Linked DNA regions of Homo sapiens. The protein of the gene in region 7 purifies or fractionates together with the protein of the main gene of each other region. This does not show direct contact. Each region holds a gene or a part of one and is shown on either strand. Other genes may lie near its edges.

Region 1 (3,500 bases), on a different chromosome or scaffold from region 7:
AATATTAGCAACTCTACAGAAATAAAAAGGATTATAAAAGAAAACTATGGGCCGGGTGCAGTGGCTCATGCCTGTAATCCCAACACTTTGAGAGGCCGAGGCGGGTGGATCACTAGAGGTCGGGAGTTCGAGACCAGCCTGACCAACATGGAGAAACCCCGTCTCTACTAAAAATACAAAATTAGCCGCGCGTGGTGGCACATGCCTGTAGCCCCAGCTACTCAGGAGGCTGAGGCAGGAGAATTGCTTGAACCCGGAAGGCGGAGGTTGTGGTGAGCCGAGATTGTGCCATTGCACTCCAGCCTGGGCAACAAGAGTAAAACTTCGTCTCAAAAAATAAAATAAAATAAAAGAAGACTATGAACAACTGTATGCCAACAAATTAGACAACTTAGATGAACAAGATAAATCCCTACAGAAATGCAAACTAGCAAAACTGACTCAAAAAGAAACCAAAAATCTGAATAAGTTTATAACAAGAGATTGAATTAGTAATTTTAAAACTGCCCACCAAAAAAAATGCAGGCCCAGATGGGTTTTTTTTCCAGACTGAGTCTCGCTCTGTCGCCCAGGCTGGAGTATAGTGGCACAATCTCAGCTCACTGCAACCTCCACCTCCCAGGTTCAAGTGATTCTTGTGCCTCAGCCTCCTGAGTAGCTGGGATTACAGGTGCCCACCACCACACCTGGCTAATTTATGTACTTTTAGTAAAATTGGGGTTTTGCCATGTTGGCCAGGCTGGTCTTGAACTCCTAACCTCATGTGATCTGCCCACCTCAGCCTCCCAAAGTGCTGGGATTACAGGCACGAGCCACCATGCCTGGACTTCACTGGTGAATGCTATTAAACATTTAAAGAATTAATACCAATGTTTCACAAACTTTTCCAATAAATAGATGAAGAAGGAAAACTTTCCAATTCATTTTATGAACCCACTATTATCCTGATGACAAATGCGTCACAAGAAAAGAAAACCACACACTAATATCTCTTATGATATAGATGCAAAAATCCTCCACGATATACTGGCAAACTAAATTCAGCAACATATAAAAAGGGTATTATACACTATGACCAACTGAGACTTATCCTACAAATATAAGAATGGTATAACTTCAGATAGTCAATTAACGTATTACACCATATCATAGGATAAAACAAAATACATGATCATCTCAACAGCTGCAGCAAAAACATCTGACAAAACTCCAACATCCCTTCATGATTAAAAGAAAAAAACCAAAACTCTCAACATACTAGGAATAAAAGGAAACTTCCTCAAAAAGCATCTCTAAAAAACCCACAACTAACATCATAGTTAATGGTGAAAGACTGGATGTTTCCCCTCTAAGATGAGGAACAAGATGAGGATGTCCTCTTTCACCATATCTAGTCAACATTGTACTAGAGATTCTAGTCATGGCAACTGGGCAAGAAAAATAAATAAAAAGCATCCAGAATGGAAAGGAAGATGACATGATCTTGTGTATAAAATCCTAAGGAATCCACCAAAAAACTATTAGAACTATTAAATGAGTTCAGCAAGGTTTCAGGACACAAGATCAATAACTAATCAATTATATTTCTACATACTTGTAATGAGCAACTCAAAAATGAAATTAAGACAACAATTCCATCTATAATAGCATCAAAAAATAAAACATTTAGGAATAAATATGACACAATAAATATAAAACTTACATACTCTTAAACCATAAAACATTGTTTAAAAAAAATTAAAGAAGAACTGGCCTGGTGTGGTGGCTCACACCTGTAATCCCAGCACTTGGGGAGGCTGAGGTGGGCGGATCACCTGAGGTCGGGAGTTCGAGACCAGCCTGACCAACATGGAGAAACCCCACCTCTACTAAAAATACAAAATTAGCCGGGCGTGGTGGCACATGTCTGTAATCCCAGCTACTTGGGAGGCTGAGGCAGGAGAATCGCTTGAACCTGGGAGACGGAGGTTGCAGTGAGCCAAGATTGTGCCATTGAACTCCAGCCTGGGCAACAATAGTAAAAACTCCATCTCAAAAAACAAACAAACAAAAAAAACCTCAAAAAATTAAAGAAGACCTAAATAAATTGAAAAACATCCTTATGCTCATGGTTTAAAAGACAATATTGTTAAAATGACAAAACTCTCCAAACTGAGGTATAGATTCAATTCAACTCCTATCAAAATCTCAGCTGGCTTTTTGCTGACATTGACAAGCTGATCTTAGAATTCATGTGGAAATGCAAGAAACCTAGAATAGCCACCTTGAAGAGAGAGGTCTGAGGACTCACATTTCACGCTTGCCAATTTTAAAACGTACTACACAAAGCTACAGCAATCAAGACAACGTGGTACTGGCATAAGGACAGACATACAGGTCAATGGAATACAATTTAGAGTCCAGAAATAAACCCACACATTTATGGTCAATTGATTTTCAACAAGGGTGCCAAAATAATTCATTGGGAAAGAACTGTCCTTTCAACAAGTGCCGCTTGAACAACTGCATATCTACATGCAAAAGAACAAAATTTTGGCTGAGCTCATTGGCTCATCCCTATAATCCCAGCACTTTGGGAGGCCAAGGCGGGAGGATCACCTGAGGTAGGGAGTTCGAGATCAGCCTGATCAACATGGAGAAACTCCATCTCTACTAAAAATACAAAATTAGCCAGGCATGGTGGCGCATGCCTGTAATCCCAGCTACTCGGGAGGCTGAGGCAGGAAAATTGCTTGAACCTGGGAGGCGGAGGTTGTGGTAAGCCGAGATCACACCATTGCACTCCAGCCTAGGCAACAAGAGCGAAACTCCATCTCAAAAAAAAAAAGACAACCCATGGAATGGGAGAAAATATTTGCAAATCACATACTGATAAGGGCCTACTATCCAGAATATGCAAAGAACCTTTACAACTCAACAAGTCAAATAACTCAATTTTTAAATGGGCAAAGGATTTGAGATGACATTTCTCCAAGGAAGATACACAAATTGCCAATAAGCACATGAAAAGATGCTCAACATCATTAATCATAAGAGAAATGCGAATCAAAACCACAATGAGATGCCACTTCACACCCACTAGGATGCGTACAAACAAAACAACAGATAATACCAAGTGTTGACAAGGATGTGAAGAAACTGGAATCTCATACACTGCTGGTGGAAATGTAAAATAGTGCAGCCACTTCGAAAAATTGCTGGCAGTTCCGCAAAAAGTTAAAACATAGAGTAACTACATGACCCAGCAATTCCTCTCCAAGGTATATACCCAAGATAAATGAAAACATATACCCATACAAAAACTTATACATGGGGCTGGGTGCAGTGGCTCATGCCTGTAATCCCAGAACTTTGGGAGGCCAAGGTGGGCTGATCACTTGAGGTCAGGAGTTCAAGACCAGCCTGGCCAACATGGTGAAACCCCATCTCTACTAAAAATACAAAAATTAGCCAGGCGTGGTGGTGCACACCTGTAATCCCAGCTACTAGGGAGGCTGAGA
Region 2 (3,500 bases), on a different chromosome or scaffold from region 7:
CAGAATTTGTCTGTTGCTAGCACCTGGCTTTCATACTATATCCTTATCAAATAATCAGATTGAAAGTCCAAATCATTCTTAAGCAAGCAAAAATCCTCAGTGGCCATACCTCACTCCCCTATGTTCAGATTTTCACAAGTTTACAAGTGAATCAAGGCTGTCCTCTGAAGGTGCTTGACTACCTCCTGCCAGGAAGGTGGATGCCGTTGACTTGGGGCAGGAAAGGCAGTAAGAGCTCCAGTTGTGCAAAAAGTGAGAAGTGGTCAGAGGGGATGAGGGGGTGCGGGCAGCCACTGATGTTATTCTCAACCAGCCAGTGGTGGTCCAGAGGGCCCAGGATGCCTAAGGTGTTCAGCTGAGGTTTAGAATAGAAAATGTAGTCTATTATACCCTGAAAAACAACAGAAAAAAAGATAAGCACCGTATAAGACAACACTAAAATCCTCAGTGCTTTCAAGACATGCCTTTATGTCATGTTTGGTGAACAGAACAGAACAAGTGAAACTTACTAGCTTGTAGGATGAGGTCTGTACTACATACACCAAATGGTCCCCGTGCAAAATGTCAAATCTAGCAGAATGAAGCATTCTTCTTATCTGGATCTTTAACAAGACCTAAAAGGCCTTTCAGGATGCAGCCTCTGCTTCTCTTTCCTAGCCTAATTTGTGCCACTTTCCCTGCTTCCACACTAGCCTTTGGAATGAGAAAGGGGTGAGGATGTGAGGGGACCTATAGGTACCAAGTTCTTTCCTGCCCCAGGACGGACGGACGGACGGACACACACACACACACACACACACACACACACACACACACACACACACACTGCCCCCCTCCACCATTCTGCCTGGAACACTTTCTTCTACTTGTTATGAGGTCAATTCCTTCTTAATCTTTCAATGTCAGGTTCAACTGCTTTCCAAAGACCTTCCTGAATCCTGCTCCTACCTACTTACTACCCTACCTCTCACCACAGATTCACTTCCCTTGCTAATGGCCATCTCAAGGTGTAATTATCTACTCATTTGTGTGGTTGAGACTTGTCTCTCTCATCACACCTCAGCTCCATGAGGGCAGGACTGTCTCTACCTGACCCCCTTTTCTCTCAGCAGCACCCCGCCATGGCATCTACTAAACTGTTCCCATCTGATGGTTCTGGTCCTCCCCTCTACATGCTCTTGGCCAAATGTACTGAAGCACATTCAAGTGTCTTCTTCCTGCCACTGCATCAGCAACAGAAAGAGAAAGAAAACGCTAAGCATTCCCACTCTGTGGCTGCTACCCATGCTTTCTCTTCAATGTCTCCTGAAGAACCTGAAAGGAAGGGGCACCTGAGGATAAACAGGGGTTTACTTTCTATGCTCTAAGGTGCAAAGGCTCCTGAGATACTATCTAAACTCTTATTTACACTCTGACAGTCTAATCTAAATGATTACTTTTCCAGCAGCTTAGAAATAGAAAGCTGGGAGTTAAGAAATTTTTAAGAAAGCAGAAATGCAAAAAGTAGTTTAAAAGGGCAGCTGAGCCAGATGTGGTAGCTCCCGTCTATAATCCCAGCACTTTGGGAGGCTAAGGCAGGAGGATTGCTTGAGGCCAGGGGTTCAAGATTGGGCTGGGCAATATAGCAAAACCTTGTCTTTACAAAAAATTACCAAAAAAAAAAGATCTGGGTATGGCGGCGGACACCTGTAGTCCAAGTTAGCGGGGAGGCTGAGGCAGGAGGGTTGCCTGAGCCCGAGAGTTTGAGGCTGCAGTGTGTTATCATCACATCACTGTACTTCAGCCTGGGCAAAATGAGTGAGACCATATCTCTTTTTAGAAAAAGGACAGTTGAACACAAGAAAGTGACAGCCCTAAACAATCACTAACGTTAAAAATGGTGTAAGTCTGACCAGGTGCGGTGGCTCATGCCTGTAATCCCAGCACTTTGGGAGGCCAAGGTGGGTGGATCACTTGAGGCCAGGTATTCAAGACCAGCCTGGCCAACATGGTGAAACTCCGTCTCTACCAAAGATACAAAAATTAGCCAGGTGAGGTGGCTCATGCCTGTAATCCCAGCTACTTGGGAGGCTGAGGTATGAGAATCACTTGAACCTGGGAGGTGGAGGTTGCAGTGAGCCGAGATCACGCCACTGCACTCCAGCCTGGGCAACAGAGCAAGACTGTCTCTAGGGGGAGAAAAAAGATGTATCTTAGAAACACTTAAAAATAGCTAATATAAATCACATTTTGGCATGCAAGAGTTTACTTTCAGTTAAATTAAAATGTAAGAGAAGGAACATCTTACCACAAATGCCACTCAAACTAGATAATTATGGTGCTGCATATCTAGCTATTAGTAATGAGAATATAAGAAACATAATTGTCCCCAAAAGGTGAAAAAGTCAACTTAGGAATTTTACAGATTATTTCATGTGACTTCTTATCCTGAAAATTATTAGAATAAATATCTACAAAGTAAGGATGTGACACTGATCACATGGACTTCTAAAAAAGAGTAATAAAAGAATATTACTGGCTGAGCACAGTGGTTCACGCCTGTAATCCCAGCACACTGGGAGGCTGAGGTGGAAGAATCATTTGAGGCCAGGAGTTCAAGATCAGCCTGGGCATAGCGAGACCCCATCTCTACAAAAAATACAAGAATTAGCCAGGCGTGGTAGTAGGCGCCTGTAGTCCCAGCTACTAGGGAGGCCGAGGTGAGAGGATCGTTTGAGCCGGCATGGTTGAAGCTGCAGTGAGCCATCACTGTGCCACTGCACTCCAGCCTGGGTAACAGAGTGAGACCTTGTCTCAAACAAAAAACAAAGAACATTGCTGTCAATGAATTCAAGACTGCTTCATTCCAGCCTGAACACACAGCCACAGTTTTAAAGACATAATGATGTATCAGAACACCTGCCAGTAAAAGACAGGTTTGAAAAGCTTATCAGTCTCAAGACACACCTTGAAATCAAATGTGTAATTCGTGTAAGGCATCAGGCCACTCTCATAGGCACTCTGTAACTTGAAACCATGAGTGATCCTTCCATTGGTGGTTCCATTCTTCCCATGACAGCTGAAGTTTGTGAGACTTTCATTATACCTCAACTCCTTAAAGTCTTTGTGATTTGTTTCTACTCCACCTGTGCTCAAATATTCTACAACACCTACAATGAAGACAAATTTTTTTATTGTCAAATATATACAAAAAGTAATTTTAAAAGATCATGCAATAGTAAGAAGTTTTAAACTATACATATTCCCACGTTCCAAAATGTTTCCTTTTACATTTGCCAGGACTTGCCCAAATCTATTTTTACACAGTTGTCATCACAGAGTATTGAATAGTTTATAATTTGCTTTATGAACATGTGTCTTCCCAATTATCGTTCTTTAATGGCTGCACAATGCAATTGGGCTGGTGGATAATATTTACTGGTTACTTATTTTGTAAAATGCAGGTTGTTTCCACTTTTTACAAAGAATTAAAGATAACACCACGATCAGCATCTTAGTAT
Region 3 (3,500 bases), on a different chromosome or scaffold from region 7:
TATCTTCTTTTCCTAGGCAATGTTGTAGGCATTTGGAATTCAGCAGCAAGTAAGAAGTACAAGTTTGCTACTCTTGAAAAGCTGCCATTCTAGGGGGTGATCTTAGAAAATGCAATACACGTTATAATTGGTATCGCATCTCTAACCAAGCGTATATATCAAATATATGCTATATAAAACTAATGACATGAGAACAAAGGTACACATTGTCAACATTTACAATCGTGAAATAATGTTATATTGTGTAACCTTAATATAATAAGCACACATGTATTTATCCGTACATTACAGACATAAAACCTGTACTGTACAATAAATGTGACTTAGTGAAACTAATAATGTCAGCTAAATATCAGTGAGCACAGCTTTAATTAGCAATATTTGTATTTGCTTTGAAAGTTCAGAAAGACATGTAGGGGAAATCTGGAGCACACACAGCCTTGAAAAATGCCAGGTCAGAATATTTAAACAAATTTCATTTTATTATTATTTTCAGTAAATTCCCTTGACAAAATACTATCATTCTGTAGTTCTTTGAGTAGTGTGTAAATATTGAATCACCTTTTTTATAATTACCATTTCAGCTTTAAATATTTGAAGGCTTGCTGAAGACCTTTAAGAATTCAAAAGCAGGGGCCACTTTAAACTAATATTTTGTTCACCTTCTCATCTTTGTTTTCCTGACTCTTGCCACTTCCCTGTCTTTTCCACCTCAAAAATAAACAAATAAAACATAAGAGTGAATCTTAATGGCAAATTAAAATAAATCAAAACAAAAGAACAGGTTGAAGAGAATGAGGTGAATGGGTGCTGACTCATTTATTCAGTTAACTGTTTAACGATTCTCATTAAAAACCTACCGAGTGCCAGGCAGCATTCTAGGCATTCACAATTTTACAGTAAGTCAGAAGTACAAGTTTGCTGCTCTTGAAAAGCTGCCATTCTAGGGGGTGTTATACTTCTTGCCTTTATGTTGGCAAGGAAACAGGGACACTAATGGGCTGATTATATGAATGTTACCCTTTGAGATTTCTCTAAAGAGTCAACTATTAGAATGCCCCTTCCTACCCTAATAGCACTGCGTTTCAGAATCATTGTTTAGAATAAGGCACTTGAATATGAGGTCAGCAAAGCAGACAGTTTATATTTTTAATTAGTAGTATTTTGATTTGTATTCTTCTGCTAAAAAGAAAGAATTAGACCTCTAAAAAGATGGATTTTATTGCAAATATTTGTCATGTAGCTACATTGGATATTTCTGATGTGGAATATAGAATGCATATTAATATGACCATAACATACCTTAAAAAGTGATTGGTGAATGTGCCTTAATTTACTTCCTTCAGCAATTTTTAAATATTAAGAATAAAGCATTGATTTGAAATTTCTATTCTTTTGCACCTTAAAATTTTTGGTTTTTCATTTACAAGAAAATTTTTAGTAATGGTATTGTGTCTTACCAGAATATAGATGTTATTGTTTCATCGCAATTTAATTTCATTTCAATGTATTCCACATTTTGTTCTTTTCAATGTTTATCGGTATTTCAGTTATACCATTTATTTATTGGGGCAAGGGGCTAATTGGCCAAGCTTTTGGTATAATAATAGTAATAACTGCAGCTAATACTAAGGTTTTTTTGTGGGTTCCAGTTACATTCTAAGAATCTTAGTGGATTGGCTCATTAGTCTTCACAGCAAACCCATGAAATACAGTTACATACAGCTGTATAATATGACTTAAATAATAATATTTTTCCCATTTCCACATGAGGAAACTAAAGCAAAGAGAGGTTAAGAAATGCGTGCAGGATCACTTAGCTAATAAGTAGAGGATTTGGATACAAGCCTAAAAATATGCTATCAAGCCCTTCTAGGAAAGCAGGATTTGTGTCACCTATGAATGTTTTCCTGTCCTTCTTGGCCATTCAGAAAACTACTCTTTGCTATAATTTCATTTAATTAAATCTTCAGTAGATACATAATCCTGTCATTTTCATAGTAGAGTTTATAGATTTTTGAAATATTATAGGGATGATGGGTAGTCATTGTCTTTTATCTTCCCCCATCCAAGCCTTACCCAAACCTCCAGGAACTCCTGTAGTGACCGAGAGCACAGCTACAAGCATCACACTGACGTGGGACTCTGGGAACCCTGAGCCTGTTTCTTATTACATAATTCAGCATAAACCTAAAAACTCTGAGGAACTTTACAAAGAAATTGATGGGGTGGCGACCACACGCTACAGTGTCGCTGGACTAAGTCCCTACTCGGATTATGAATTCAGGGTTGTTGCTGTCAATAACATTGGGCGGGGGCCTCCCAGCGAACCTGTGCTAACACAAACCTCAGAGCAAGCACCATCCAGTGCCCCGAGGGATGTCCAGGCACGAATGTTGAGTTCGACCACCATTTTGGTACAGTGGAAGGAACCTGAAGAGCCAAATGGACAGATCCAAGGATATAGAGTTTATTATACAATGGATCCCACTCAACATGTCAACAACTGGATGAAACACAATGTAGCTGACAGCCAAATCACTACTATTGGCAACTTAGTGCCCCAGAAAACATATTCTGTCAAAGTCCTGGCTTTTACCTCAATTGGAGATGGTCCCCTTTCAAGTGACATACAAGTCATCACTCAGACAGGAGGTAAGTTTGGTTGAGGAGGGAAATAGGGCAGGAGGGAAGGGCTGGTGCAAAGAGGTGAGAAGGACAAAAACAAAGAAGGAACAAAGATGGTATGAATTTTAATTTTTGAGATTTAGGGCTTCAAAGCAACAGATGATAGATATCTGAAAAGGAACAAGCATGGACATCTGAAAAACTAATCATTTTGAGCAGAACAATGCATTAACACCCCTTCTTTTTAATTTGTATGGGAATGACTTGAAGACTTCTCTATGTGAGATAGAACAATGTCTCCCCCATGCCCAGTTTTGAGAATAGAAAAACGACACTTCTTTGTAATAGCTAGTATGGTAGAGTGGTCTCAAAAGAGTATTTAATTTGTGTAAGATTGGATGGTTCAAGACAAAGCTAAAAAATAAAACTGTTACAGGGCCTTGGGTATTTAAATGGCTTATATTTGCCAGAAGCTACTGGCTTGAAAATAAGTATTCTCTGAGTGGCTTTAATTTCTGTTTTTCTCTGTATGGCCTCAGTGGATAAAGAGAGACAGTTACCGAGATCTCAGATAGAACATTGGGCCTGATTGATTAACTTTGCTAAGAGCTACAGCAGACATTAGACTATTTTATGAAGGAAAACTTGGCCCTCCCAGTGGTTTTATTTTTCTAAGAGGTTATCAAACCTCTTTGGTCTTTGAGTCAAGGTGATCAGTTTGGCTTTGGGCTAATATAAAATAACAGGCCTCTTCTAAAGTTTATTCTTGAGCCACGCACAGTGGCTCACGCCTGTAATCCCAACACTTTTGGGAGGTAGGTGGATCACTTGAGGGTCAGGACTTTGAGACCAGCCTGGCCAATGGCAAAACC
Region 4 (2,514 bases), on a different chromosome or scaffold from region 7:
TGGCATCCCACACACCAGTCTGATGCCACATCTGTTCTCTTACCAACCACTGGCACCTGCATCCCTTATGCCAACAGTGCCGTGCCACTATGTTCACCCATTTTCTGTAATTATGTGGCAAATACGTTCCCTTCATCTGGAACTCTGAAGCCACTTAAGATGCAACACAGATTCCCGGTGGGCTACTAAACAGACTGCCCAGTGTAGACTCCATAATGAGTGTGGTTTCCAACAATTTTTGCATGGATTCTGAAAAATCACTATGTATTGAAAATTTATGTTCATAAGTCATTTTTCATGAACACTGATAGTTCAGCAATAACTGATTTTCACAAAGTAGATGCAGGGTTTTCAGTCACTAAATGAATTCAACAAAATGTTTACTGTGCAATACAAAGGTGATGCACGCTAATATTCTCAGAGAAATTATAGGAAACTGAGTAGCTTGAATTTGGACCAAAAATGTCAGAAAAAAGGTATTCAAGTGGAAAAAAATCCAGTGAACTCTAATAGATGGTTTATTGGAAACGCTCATAGCATCTTTTGAAAAGAACTTGACAGGTTTTATTTTAATAAGACATAGTGAAGAGGAAATGGCTTAAAAGATATCATCAATCTTTTATTTAACTAAGCACTGCCCTTCATTTTGAAGGAAATGATACAATTTCAAATCGGAACTTCCTTCTCAAGAAGTGATATAAGAATGTAACATTGATTTAACATACAACCTTCAACAAAAATAAAGTTTATACAACTCACTGGGAAATAAAATGCATGTGGAATTTATCCTGTTTGTCAACATAATTCTTCATGAGTCACAAGTATTATAGCCAAGAACAAAACAACAAAAAGCTGAATCAGTTGATAGTTACTCTGATTTAAAAAACATTTCACAAATAAGATGTAGCTTTCCAAACAAATCCATTCGATGACCATTATCACAACTATATTTTATTCTAATTTATAAAACAAAAAATGGTTAGACAAGCACATGATATCAAGAGTCTTCAACACAGTGGATTCCATTTTATTAAGAAAAAAAATAGAAAACAAGTAGTCCTTAAATTGTCTTAGCTCTCCATAGCATACGTTATATAAAATTAAAGTTTTGCTTCCAAAAATATGTTTCCATGTGGTCGTGGTGTTGTCCAGTGCTATTAGGGCCAAAGCACCAAAGACATGAGAAGTTTAACCATCGACTTGTCATTTTTCATAAAAACTAAACATTTCCTTATAGGTCTGGAGTAAAATCTTCTAGGCATTTTAGTGCTAAAAGTCACTTTAAATTAAATGTGAAATAAAAGCTACAAAAAGTATGAGTTCTTTCAATACAAAAAGTTGTGTAGCTGAAGTTGTGGGCTCCTTTGACATACATAAGCAGTTTCAATAAAATATTTGCTCAGGTAAGAAAATAGAAATTTGTCTGCTTTCATTTAGCATACGTTCCAGTCGATGTCCTGCTTATCCCTGCCAGAACTTCTGAAGAACATTAGAATCGATATTTCTTTCCTTCAAAGAGCATCCGTAATTCACAGTACAAAACAGTTCTACAGTCTTATTCCTAAGGAGAAACAAAAATTATTAAATATGTTTATTTTTTCTAAAGTGTCAAATGTAGCCACTGCCAGGGCATTAAAAACTCACTTATCCACAACACTGCCGTCTTCAGGAAAGAACCAAGAGTTGATTCATTCCCCTTTCCTGGAGCTGTTACTAGTTGGTTGTTGCTTTAAGTGTAATAACCCTAAGAAAATTCCCAATAAAAATCACTGTTCTTAAGTGTCACATATTTCACACCTCTGGTACCCTGTAGAAACGCTTGTATTACATGGGAAAGCAGCATCTGAAAAGATCTATTTCCTATTCTAGTTCATTTCCAAGCCCTGTTATTGAAAACCTCTTCTCTAGAAGAGAGAGTCACTGCTCTCTCTTAACACAGTCGCTGCTATACTTCAGCGTGACTGACCATACATCATTTTCCATTCTGGGACAGAGGAAGAAGACGGGTGGGGGAGTTGATCTGGCTAGCCCAGAGCTGGACAGTGCCATTCTATTCTTCCCTCCCACTTGTCTACACGGTGGTTATTACTACTTGCTCTGCTGCCCAGGCTGGAGTGCAGTGGTGCGATCTCGGCTCACTGCAACCTCTGCTTCCCAGCTTCAAGCAATTCTTCTGCCTCAGGCTCCCAAGTAGCAGGCATTACAGGCGCCTGCCACCACGCCCAGCTAATTTTCTGTATTTGTGGTAGAGACAGGGTTTCGCCATGTTGGCCAGGCTGGTCTCGAACTCCTAACTTCAGGTGATCTACCTGCCTCAGCCTCCCAAAGTGCTGGGATTACAGGCATGAGCCACTGTGCCCGGCCTACCTTCTATTTTCACTACTGTGTTAAGCATGAAAGAAAATCCAACTGGGTTAGATACAGCAGGTTCTCCTAAATGTCTTAACCCATGTTTATCTTGTTCTGCTATTCCATGAGCAAAGAGAATAAACACAAAGCTGTGAGAGTATTAAA
Region 5 (3,500 bases), on a different chromosome or scaffold from region 7:
AAATGGGCAGCGTCCCTGAGCCTCTGGCCCAGCTCCCTTCCGAACCTCTTGGGACCAGAAGGGGGCACTTGAAGTGGCTTCTCTGGAACCCCACTGGCCACAGCTGTGGCCACTGGCCCCCTCAGAGAGGAGGGGCTAGGGGAACCCATTCCTGGGATGTTTCTGGGTAGGTGTGTTCACTGAGGCTCCACAAGGAGCCCTCAACCTGCCCCAGGAATGCAGGTGGGTGCACATGCCTGCCTCCTCCACCCCGGATGCCTTAGCACTGGGCAGGCTGAGAGGGGGAAGAGAGCACCCTCTGGGCAGAAAGAATTTTGCTTCAGATGGCTGAGCCCAGCTGGAGGAATAAGGCTCCTGTCTGTGTGGGTGACCCCACCCCTCTGCACAGTGTGTACAGCATTGAGTGGTACACGCACCCCTGCTCTCCACCCAGGCAGAGGTGAGAGGCTCAATGGGGAGGCCCTGCTCCTGGATAGGGAGACCTTGAGAGCACCACACCAGGTGTTGTGACTCTCCAGCAGGGTCTTTTGGGAGGGGGCTCATGACAGCAACTGTGGCCCTTTCCTAGGGGTCCACAGACATGGCTTCTCATCCAAGCGCAGCAGCCACCTACTTGCTGAATAATTCCATACCACTCTCATAACCCCCCAGCATTCCAAGTTCTTCATCTGAATAGCAACCAGTGTTCAGAATACCCCAGGGACCTCACCCCAAGCTCAAGGGCAGGACCATCCTCCCAGGAAGACAGATGTGCACAGAGGGAGGTGTGAGGCTGGCCAGCAGGCCTAGCTCTTGAGGGTGAACATCAGGGGCTGAATCGTTCCCTGCAGGGCCAGGAGCAGGGCAACACTCTACTTGGCTACTCACAGAGCTTTGCAGCAACCACGGACCCATGGCCGCCAGTGGGGTAAGACAGCCCTGGAGCACTCTCTCTACCCTTTCTGTGGGAAGAGTGGATGCCAGCCCAGCACTGTCTAGGGGAAAGGCACATCTCAAAACCCCGACCTGGTGGGGCACAGTGGCTAACACCTGTATTCTCAGCACTCTGGGAGACTGAGGCAGGCGGATCACCTGAGGTCAGGAGTTCGAGACCAGCCTGGCCAATATGGTGAAACCCTGTCTCTACTAAAAATACGAAAATTGGCTAGGCGCAGTGGCAGACGCCTGTAATCCCAGCTACTCGGGAGGCTGAGGAAGGAGAATTGCTTGAACCCAGGAGGCACTCCAGCCTAGGCGACAAGAGTGAAGCTCTATCTCAAAACAAACAAACAAACAAAAAACCCACACCCAAAAAACCCCAGCCTAACCCCTGATGCTGCAAAGCATCTCGGGTCTCACAACCAAGGAAAGGCAGTCACAGCACTGCTGAGGGCAGGCAGGGGAAGAGGGACATATCTGGGCCCCAAAAGGGAGCTTGTGCATGCTGGTCTGTGCTCACCCTGCCACCCCACCACCACCCAATGCTGCACCTGGGCCTCGGCTAGCATGACGTCTTGGATGATGGGGAGTCCACGGGGCTCGCCATTCTCCAGCCGCACGTAGGTGACCTGGTAGCCGCGGATCTGGCCATGCTGCTTGCTGGGGACAGGCAGCTTCCAGTAGACATGCACAGCAGTGGAGTTCAGTGGCTCCACCTCCACCTTCCGCGGAGGCCCGCTGGGCACTGGGGGGTCAGGTAGAGAAGGAAGTCAGGCCTGGAGGTATCAACCCTAGCTCAGGTGGGCACAGCAAACTTGAGGGTCCTGCCTCAGCACCCCACTCCCCCAGGAAAGGCCCTGATACAGTTTCCTTAGATCATCTGTCCCTGGTGAGGCACACGGAAGGCTCCCTCTGCCCGCCACGGGTAAGAGCCCAGGACTGGCCCTGCCCACCCCTCTGGCCCAGGCCTCTCACTTGGTGGGGAGGGTCGACATGGGGGAACAGGTGGAGGTGGGGCACCAGGTCTTTGACCACCCCTAGTCAGCACAACCTGTCCTGACTCCTCCTAGGCCCCAATCATGCCAATGTCCAGCCAACGTGGAGTCTTGCTGATTCTACTTTGAGTATCTTTTACACCAATCTGCCCAATCTTGACCTTTCAAATCTTAGACAGGGCTGCTTCTCCCATCTTAGCCTGTGAAGGTTTCAGCTGCTTTGGAGACAGCCCCAAAGGCTGGGATTTGGGCCTCAGTTATCCCGTAAGTGACATCCCCCCACTTTAGGCCATTACACCTGAACCAGAAAGATGAGTTGACCTGGGCCTGTGTTCAGGAAAGGAAGGCCCTGGGGAGCTTGGTGGGTGGTGTCTGAGGCAGAACGCCTCCCCTCCCGCCCCGGTGGCACTGCCTACCGTCCTCATCGGTGCGCACCAGCACCGGGCTGCTCTCGGGGCCGGGGCCCACGTCTGTGTGTGCCCGCACCCACACCCGGTACTCCGTCCACTTCTCCAGGCCCACCAGGTCCCAGCTGGAGTGCTCACGGCTGATGCCATCCACCACATGCCGCCCGCGGTCCTCGCCGTCCACCGCCTCGTAGGCCACGGAGTACTGGGTGATAACGCCGTTGCGGCTGTCGGCAGGCGGCGGGACCCAACTTACCCGGACCGTGGTGGAGCCCATGCTCACACACATCACCTTCTGGGGAGGGGCGGAGGGGGCTGGGGAAGACAAATGGGGGGGAAGCAAGCAGATGGAGGGTGGGGATCACAGGCACAATGACTGAGTCACAGTGGACTGGAGACTCACCCGGGCAGGCTACCCCTTAGGTGCTGAAATGGCCATCCCAGGGTCCCTCCAGGCAGGCTGCTGCCACTCTCGCCAAGGACACCTGACTCCCTCTGACCTGCCTCCCTCTCTCTCCTTCCCTCTCTCACACACACACACGGTGATACACACACAGTTATCACACACACTGACTCTCACACAGCCTCACACACAGTGTCAGTCTCAGTGCCTCACACACGTCTCACACAGTCACACGCTGTGTCACACACACAGGGTGTCTCATACATATACTGTCTTGGTGTCTCACAGTGTCTCTCACAGTGTCACACACATACATAGTGTCACATATACATAGTGTCTCACACATAGTCTCCACATATAGTGTCATATACAGTGTCACACATATACAGTGTCATATAGTGTTTCACACACACAGTCTCACACATATACAGTGTCATATACACTGTCTCATACGGTCTCACACATATACAGTGTCACATACACATAGTGTCTCACAGTCTCACGTATACATAGTGTCATATACACAGTGTCTCACACGTGTCTCTCACACAGTCTCTCACAGTAAATACACAGTCTCTCATGGTGTCTCACACACACACTGTCACATACATAGGCTGTCTCGCACATATACTGTCTTGGTGTCTCACAGTGTCACACACACACAATGTCTTGGAGTATCAGTGTCTCTCACACAGACTCACATATACACAGAGTATCACATACCCGTGTCTTGGTGTCTCACACATGGCATCTGACACACACTCTCACACACAATGT
Region 6 (3,500 bases), on a different chromosome or scaffold from region 7:
AACTCCTTAATTGAAAAAAAACTTAGATAATGCATTATTTCAGTGCTAAGAAGAATAAGTTACCTTTTTCTTAAATGTCGTTTACCTCATAGACTAGGCACAAAGCTATCTTTATACTGAATTTTCAATACTAGCTTAAAGAATAACATTTCTAGATCAAGTTATATGGTTAATAAGGTATACTATCTCATGATGATGAATAATTTAAAAATACTTTTTGCTCTAGGCAAAACAGTGGGTGAAATTTCTACACAGAACACTTCTATTAGGACTCCTCTCAGTTTTTTGTTATTTCGCAGCAACATTTTTAGCACAACTTTCTCTATCCTCAGTTTTTAATTTTTCTAAACATACCAGACAAAAACAACTCTCAAATGATGCGTACTAGATATAAAACCCTCCTGGTATCGAACAAAATACACAAAAGTAAATCTCTGCATATACTAGACTGTCAGAAGATACAAGTTTCGTATTGAAGATGTCCATGGTCTTAGCAAAATCAACTTTTCAAAGCAAAGGTCTGGCAATAATGCAGCCAGTAATGACTGAAGAAAATGGTGTTTTCTAAACATGAGGCTTAAATTCCATGTAGGTCATTTACAACTGTGAAGAGCCACCCAAAAAAGGTGGTAGTCAAGGTTGTCTCGTAACAATTTAAAACAGAACATACCAGAATGTAGCAACCAAGCAAGATGCTTTGGGCCTGGGCTCTGGTCATATGGTATTGATCGTACCAGCATTCCAGCTCCAACCATGGCTGCAAAGGTCACACCAATTGTCTGAAAGACAAGTACTATTAAGAAAAACTGATCTTTATATGAAAACAAAGCAGAAACCCACAGGTTTGAAGTACAATTAGTTACTTCTAATAAACTAGTTGTAAAAATATTAAAGATAATAAATCAAAGCTTAAGGCCAGGCGTGGTGGCTCACGCCTGCAATCCCAGCACTTTGGGAGGCTGGGGCAGGTGGATCACCTGAGGTCAGAAGTTTGAGACCAGCCTGGCTAACTGGTGAAACCCTGTCTCTACTACAAATACAAAAATTAGCCAGGCGCAGTGGTGCGCGCCTGTAGTCCCAGCTACTTGGGAGGCTGAGTGAGGTGGGAAAATCACTTGAACCCGGGAGGTGGAGGTTGCAATGAGGCAAGATCGTGCCACTGCACTCTAGCCTGGGTGACAGAGCGAGACTCCATCTCAAAATAAAAAAATAAAAAATAAAAAATAAAAAATAAAAACTTTAATTTTTCTGGCACATTAAAAGCTCTGGGTTTATTTCAGAGTTTTGGCTAAGTTAGCACGAGTGCCCCCTACTGCCATATATGAGGTTTTGCAGACAGCTTCAAATGCATGTCTTAAGCTTGAACTGGCAACACATCTTTTAACAATTTTACTCTTGTTGGACAGAGGTGAAACAAAAACCCTTTAGGGATCCCAAGATAATTAACTCTTAATTAAAAAATATATTTTTGTATAGCACAAATAGCATTTTCTTTAAAATCAGTGATGCTTACAAATTAGTAATTTTTAAAAAAAATATATATAGCACATCACTTTGAACTCCATATTTGCTAAATGAAGACTTGAAAAATAGAAAGTAGATTATCACAGCACATGGAAAAGAAAAATGAGAAATAAGATTCTACACTTCTACCCTTCCAGGTTTATGGCTAATTTGGTCCTCATTCCTTTTCTTTGCCTATCTTAGATTTCCAGTGTTATAATTAAATATTGCTTGTGTATGACAAGAAGAATGTATTAACATGTAATGGAAATAAGATGGTGCTAATCTCCAAGAAATTTAAATCAGAGATTGCAAACTTGTAGCCCTTGGAATCAGGCCACAGATGTTTTGTTTGGCAAACTATGTTTAAAAAAACAAACAAAAAAAAAGAACATGGTGAATGGTTTTAGTTGAAAAGGTTAACTCTAGATGTCAGTAACCTCTAGATGTCAACAATCTCCTGTGTGACACACTAGGCCTCCTCACTCATCTGTATTATCTGTCTCACCTATGAACATCAAAATATTCAACCTCTAATATAAAGTACAGGTAAACCAAATAGCTGGTTTTGCCAAGAATGGGAAAACCTTAACATGAAAAAGCATACTGAGCTGGGTGTAGTGGTATGGACCTGTAATGTCAGTTACTTGGGTGGCTGAGGTGAAAGGACCACTTGAGCCTGGGAATTTAAGCCAAGCCTAGGCAAACATAGAGATCTAGTCTCTATTTTTAAAAAACATTAAAAAGAAAAGAAAAGCATATCGAGCTCCACTCCACCATTTTCTAACGAGAAATAATTACTACAAACTATTTCACACATCCTCTGTGGACAGCAGCAATTAAATTTTTTTAAGATCTTCTATGATCCAGTCTCACTCCAAACTCTGCATTCCAACCATACGGAACTGGCACAGCTGCCAACATGCCCCAAAATTTCAGGCCTCCTTAATTCAATCCATCATGCCTAAGAATATCTCCTTCCATATCTGGTCGACTTACTCTGGTACTGTCTCATCTCAAAAGCTTTTTCTAGTAGGTACCCTGGCTGCCCAAGAGCAAGATCAGATACCTCTCCTCAGATGCACTTGGGACAAACTTTGACATTATCTGTGTGTCTATGTGTGTGTTTGTATATATATGTCTGTCACACCCAAAAGGTTACATCTTCATCTCTGTAACACTTGTCTTTGGCTTTCCTATTTTCTGTATTACTAACAGTGGAAGAGGGTAATCTTTTGCCCAGAAGGGACTGAGGATATGGCCCAAACACAAAACTTCTTTGAAGCCTCATTTTAGGGCCTAAAATTTTAGGTAAATATTGTCATGTTTATTACAAAAGTATTGTTTTAAATTATTTGCTTCTGATTAAAACTGACATCCCCAGTGAAACATTCTGTGCCTTTGTGAACCTCTGGGCTGGGAGATTCATGACGTCTATGTGAAAAAGCATGATCCTAAGAATATATAAATATCCAAATGGCTGCTACTGTAAATGGTTATCCTTTAGTAAAGTACAACACAGTGAAAATAATATGGTTTTCGTCCCTATGTGGGGAATCAGTGTTACATGAACTCTCCTTCCCCTCCAGTATCACACTCTGCTCTAGTTCAGGTTCTTATCATCCCTCATTTCAGATCTTACAAAGGCACAGCTGGTACACCTGCTCCATGTCTCTTCCACATTGGTTCTAAAAACTCAAATATAAATCACGCTTTTGTTGTTCCAGTATCTCCAATGGCCTCCGACTGCTTAGGTTCTCTCCTCAGCTTGACAACTGTATCCTTTCTAACCACGTCTTCTTTACCCTCCAGACCTCAAACACTTGAATTTCCCTCTAATGGGATTGTAAGTCACCTCTGAAATTAGGTTTTCCTACCTCCTCTTCCCTTAAACTGTTTGGTAAAATTGGACCGCCCTTGTCTACTTAAAAAAATTTTTTTTTAATTTTTAAAATTTTCTATTTCTTTAAAAATTACAGACAGTGTCTCACTATGTT
Region 7 (3,558 bases):
AAACTATTCTCCTGCCTCAGCCCCCTGAGTAGCTGGGATTACAGGTGCCCGCCATCACACCCAGCTAATTTTTGTATTTTTAGCAGAGACGGGGTTTCACCATGTTGGTCAGGCTAGTCTTGAACTCCTGACCTTGTGATCCGCCCGCCTCGGCCTCCCAAAGTGCTGGGATTACAGGAGTAAGCCACCGCATCCGGCCTCTACTTACAATCTTTACTGAGCCTTGTTGGAGCCCACTTACTACTTACCTGCGTCCTGGTCCTGTGCCTTCGTCTGACCATCTAGGAATGTCATAGATGATCTGGCCCCAGCCCTTAGCCCTGACCTCTCCTTTTAGCCATGCCCCTTAGTGGGCAAATACAAGCCTTGACCCTGCCCCTCCAGGTGTGATGTTGCAAACTCTGATCTGGTGCAAGAACTGCAAAAAGGAGGTTCACGCTTGTCGAAAGTCCTACGATTGCGGGGGTGAGAGAACTGGACCCAGCAGGAGGAATTGGTGCAGGTGGGGTGGGGCGAGAGGAGAGGCAGTCTAGAGAGAGCCTAGATGGGGGTGTGGGGGCAGTAGACAAGAAAAGGTAGGGTTTAGGCCAGGTGCAGTGGTTCACACCTATAGTCTCGCACTTCGAGAGGCTGAGACGGGAGGATTGGGAAGCCAGGAGTTTGAGACCAGCCTGGGCAACATAGCGAGACTCTATCTCTACAAAAAAATTTAAAAATTAGTCAGGTGTGGTGTTGCGTTCCTGTAGTCCCAGCTACTTGGAAGGCTGAGGCAGGAGGATTGCTTGGACCCAGGAGTTGGAGACTGCAGTAAGCTATGATCATACCACTGCACTCCAGCCCAGGCAAAAGAGTGAGACCTTGTCTAAAAAGAAAAAAAAGAGGCCGGGCGCGCTGGCTCACGCCTGTAGTCCCAGCACTTTGGGAGGCCGAGGCAGGTGGATCACAAGGTCAGGAGTTCAAGACCAGCCTGGCCAAGATGGTGAAACCATCGTTTTTGTACTAAAAATACAAAAAAATTAGCCAGACATGGTGGTGGGCACCTGTAATCCCAGCTACTCAGGAGGCTGAAGCAGAGAATTGCTTGAACTCAGGAGGCGAAGGTTGTAGTGAGATAAGATCGCGCCACTGCACTCCAGCCTGGGTGACAGAGTGAGACTTCATCTAAAAAAAAAAAAAAAAAAAAAGAGAGAGAGAAAGAAAAGAGAAAAGACGAGGTTACAACAAATGTAAAGGATTAGGGGAGGGTAAAGAACCGTGAAGGAGGCCCGGCGCAGTGCCTCATGCCTGTAATCGCAGCACTTTGGGATGCTGAGGCAGGCAGATCACCTGAGGTCAGGAGTTCCAGACCAGCCTGTCCAATATGGTGAAACCCCATCTCTACTAAAAATACAAAAATTAGCCAGGCGTGGTGGCAAGCGCCTGTAGTCCCAGATACTCAGGAGGCTGAGGCAAGAGAATCGCTTGAACCCAGGAAGCGGAGGTTGCAGTGAGCCGAGATCGCGCCAATGCATTCCAGCCTGGGCGACAGAGCGAGTCTCCATCTCAAAAACAAAAACAAAAACAGAATCATGAGTGTCCCATGGTCATCCCCCACCCCCAGAGCGGAATGTGGAAGTTCCTCAAATGGAAGACATGATCCTGGACTGTGAGTTAAACTGGCATCAGGCTTCGGAAGGCCTCACTGATTACAGCTTTTACAGGGTGAGGGCCTCAACTTCTGTAACCCTTGAACTCCCTAGACTACAATACTTGTGTTCTGGATCTATGGGCCTGCACCCACGATTCTCATGACCCAGGAGGGTGGTCTATTAGGTGTGGTCTCTACAGACCTCTGGGGACCCCGTGCCCTGACCAGTGACACCCTGGACACTCACCTCCCACACTGAGGCCCTGTGATCTTCTCACCCCTGTACTCCCCCAACCCCTGAATTCCTCAGGCCTCAGTGACCCCTTGAGCTTGGGTCTAGGTTTGGGGGAACAATACGGAGACCTTGGTGTCCAAGGGGAAAGAGGCCACCCTGACCAAGCCCATGGTGGGTCCAGAGGATGCAGGCAGCTACCGCTGCGAGCTGGGCTCTGTGAATTCCAGCCCAGCCACGATCATCAATTTTCACGTCACAGGTCAGTGCTGTGGGGCTGAGAGAAGTGTAGGATTCAGGGCCCAGGAAAGCTGGGGTCCGCGGCGGGGGCGTGGCCTTGGCGATGGGGGCGTGACTTCCTGTTGGGTGTGGTTTCGGGGCACGGGGTGTGGCTTCCTGCCGGGGGCGTGGCCTCTGGCCCCGAGGACAGGGGTTCCCTTGGGTGTGTTCAGGCTTGACACTGTTGAAGGCGTGATTATCTCTGGGATGGCCGGCTACTGGGACGGGCTTGTCTTTGCCAGGGCAGGAACTCCACGCCCTGCCAGGACTGCTCTTTACGCTTTCTCTAACAGTGTTGCCCAAAATGATCAAGGAGGAAAAACCTTCTCCAAATATCGTAACCCCGGGGGAGGCGACCACGGAGTCGTCCATAAGCCTCCAGCCTCTGCAGCCCGAGAAAATGCTGGCAAGCCGCCTTCTGGGGCTGCTGATCTGCGGCTCCCTAGCACTGATAACCGGCCTTACCTTTGCGTAAGCAACCCATTGAAGAAGACAGGCTTGGCTTGGAGTAAGGGGCGGGGCTTCCAGGAACCCAACACAGAAGCTGGTCTGGGGGCTACTGAGGCCTGAGAGCAGGACTTTCCTGGGGATGGAGTGCGGGGGGCTTGAATAGGAGGACTTCGAAGGGCGAGGCTTAGGTAATTGCTAGAATAAGGTCACAAAGGGGGAGGTTGGGAGGGGTGTCCCCCACACAATTAGTACCCAAACCGGTTCCATGATCTGCACCCCACTCCCACCCCTAGGATATTTCGTCGAAGGAAGGTGATCGATTTCATCAAATCCTCACTGTTTGGCCTTGGCAGTGGAGCGGCCGAGCAAACCCAGGTCCCAAAAGAAAAGGCCACAGATTCGAGGCAACAATAAAGATTTATCTTGTTGTCTAAGCATCTGACTCACTCCCCGGGACGGGACTGATTCTAGCCTTTGGTTCCCCGAGAGGAGAGGTCTGGGGATGGGCTCCGGCCTGAGGGAGGAAGGGCAGAAAACCGGGACCCTTGGGTCCTGGAGGGGACCAACTGACTGCGATGTAATTCCAGAATCAAGGAATGGGGCAGGGCCAACCCTACCCAGATCTCCTCCCCCAGGCCTGGTCTCCTCACAGGACGCCCCCTCCCCGCTCTTCCTGCCGGGTTTCCTCTTGCCTTTTCCTGTCCCCCACCCAGTGCTGGGAGCCGTGGCAGAGGCAAGAGCAGTGGAACTGACCCAGGCCAGTGGAGCCAGGGCCTCCGGGTGTGCCGGACCCGAAGCAGGGTAAGAGCCAGGGACCCAGCAGCCCAAACCCCTCCTCCCTGGGCCCCAAGACTCAGTCCCCCAGCCATCTTCCATCCCAGGACCCAGGAATCCAGGGTACCATCCCTCTCCTCCCCCTGGACTCGCAAGTCTGAGCCCCAGCCCCCTCCTCCCTCTGACTCGGAGTCCA

The links.
Region 1: the proteins of IZUMO1 (region 7) and ANKRD13A purify together in Homo sapiens (affinity purification with mass spectrometry; 2 studies listed by BioGRID and IntAct, with this or other methods). This does not show direct contact.
Region 2: the proteins of IZUMO1 (region 7) and CNOT6 purify together in Homo sapiens (affinity purification with mass spectrometry; 2 studies listed by BioGRID and IntAct, with this or other methods). This does not show direct contact.
Region 3: the proteins of IZUMO1 (region 7) and PTPRD purify together in Homo sapiens (affinity purification with mass spectrometry; 2 studies listed by BioGRID and IntAct, with this or other methods). This does not show direct contact.
Region 4: the proteins of IZUMO1 (region 7) and LRATD2 purify together in Homo sapiens (affinity purification with mass spectrometry; 2 studies listed by BioGRID and IntAct, with this or other methods). This does not show direct contact.
Region 5: the proteins of IZUMO1 (region 7) and PTPRF purify together in Homo sapiens (affinity purification with mass spectrometry; one large-scale study listed by BioGRID and IntAct). This does not show direct contact.
Region 6: the proteins of IZUMO1 (region 7) and GHITM purify together in Homo sapiens (co-immunoprecipitation; 3 studies listed by BioGRID and IntAct, with this or other methods). This does not show direct contact.

Annotation. Positions count from the first base shown.
Region 1 is NC_000012.12:110,005,930-110,009,429, reverse strand, and holds part of ANKRD13A (ankyrin repeat domain-containing protein 13A), read right to left. Parts: intron 1-3,500. UniProt on the Homo sapiens protein: Ubiquitin-binding protein that specifically recognizes and binds 'Lys-63'-linked ubiquitin. Does not bind 'Lys-48'-linked ubiquitin.
Region 2 is NC_000005.10:180,570,879-180,574,378, reverse strand, and holds part of CNOT6 (CCR4-NOT transcription complex subunit 6), read right to left. Parts: intron 3,150-3,500; coding exon 2,947-3,149; intron 392-2,946; coding exon 179-391; 3' UTR 1-178. UniProt on the Homo sapiens protein: Poly(A) nuclease with 3'-5' RNase activity.
Region 3 is NC_000009.12:8,517,003-8,520,502, reverse strand, and holds part of PTPRD (receptor-type tyrosine-protein phosphatase delta isoform 1 precursor), read left to right. Parts: intron 1-2,073; coding exon 2,074-2,655; intron 2,656-3,500.
Region 4 is NC_000008.11:126,551,943-126,554,456, forward strand, and holds the end of LRATD2 (protein LRATD2), read right to left. Parts: 3' UTR 501-2,514; downstream 1-500.
Region 5 is NC_000001.11:43,596,883-43,600,382, reverse strand, and holds part of PTPRF (receptor-type tyrosine-protein phosphatase F isoform 1 precursor), read right to left. Parts: intron 2,636-3,500; coding exon 2,330-2,635; intron 1,664-2,329; coding exon 1,470-1,663; intron 1-1,469. UniProt on the Homo sapiens protein: Possible cell adhesion receptor. It possesses an intrinsic protein tyrosine phosphatase activity (PTPase) and dephosphorylates EPHA2 regulating its activity.
Region 6 is NC_000010.11:84,146,009-84,149,508, reverse strand, and holds part of GHITM (growth hormone-inducible transmembrane protein), read right to left. Parts: intron 780-3,500; coding exon 671-779; intron 1-670. UniProt on the Homo sapiens protein: Plays an important role in maintenance of mitochondrial morphology and in mediating either calcium or potassium/proton antiport. Mediates proton-dependent calcium efflux from mitochondrion.
Region 7 is NC_000019.10:48,740,352-48,743,909, reverse strand, and holds the end of IZUMO1 (izumo sperm-egg fusion protein 1 isoform 1 precursor), read left to right. Parts: intron 1-384; coding exon 385-465; exon of another isoform or gene 466-502; intron 503-1,600; coding exon 1,601-1,701; intron 1,702-1,937; exon of another isoform or gene 1,938-1,967; coding exon 1,968-2,121; intron 2,122-2,431; coding exon 2,432-2,609; intron 2,610-2,881; coding exon 2,882-3,002; 3' UTR 3,003-3,058; downstream 3,059-3,558. UniProt on the Homo sapiens protein: Essential sperm cell-surface protein required for fertilization by acting as a ligand for IZUMO1R/JUNO receptor on egg.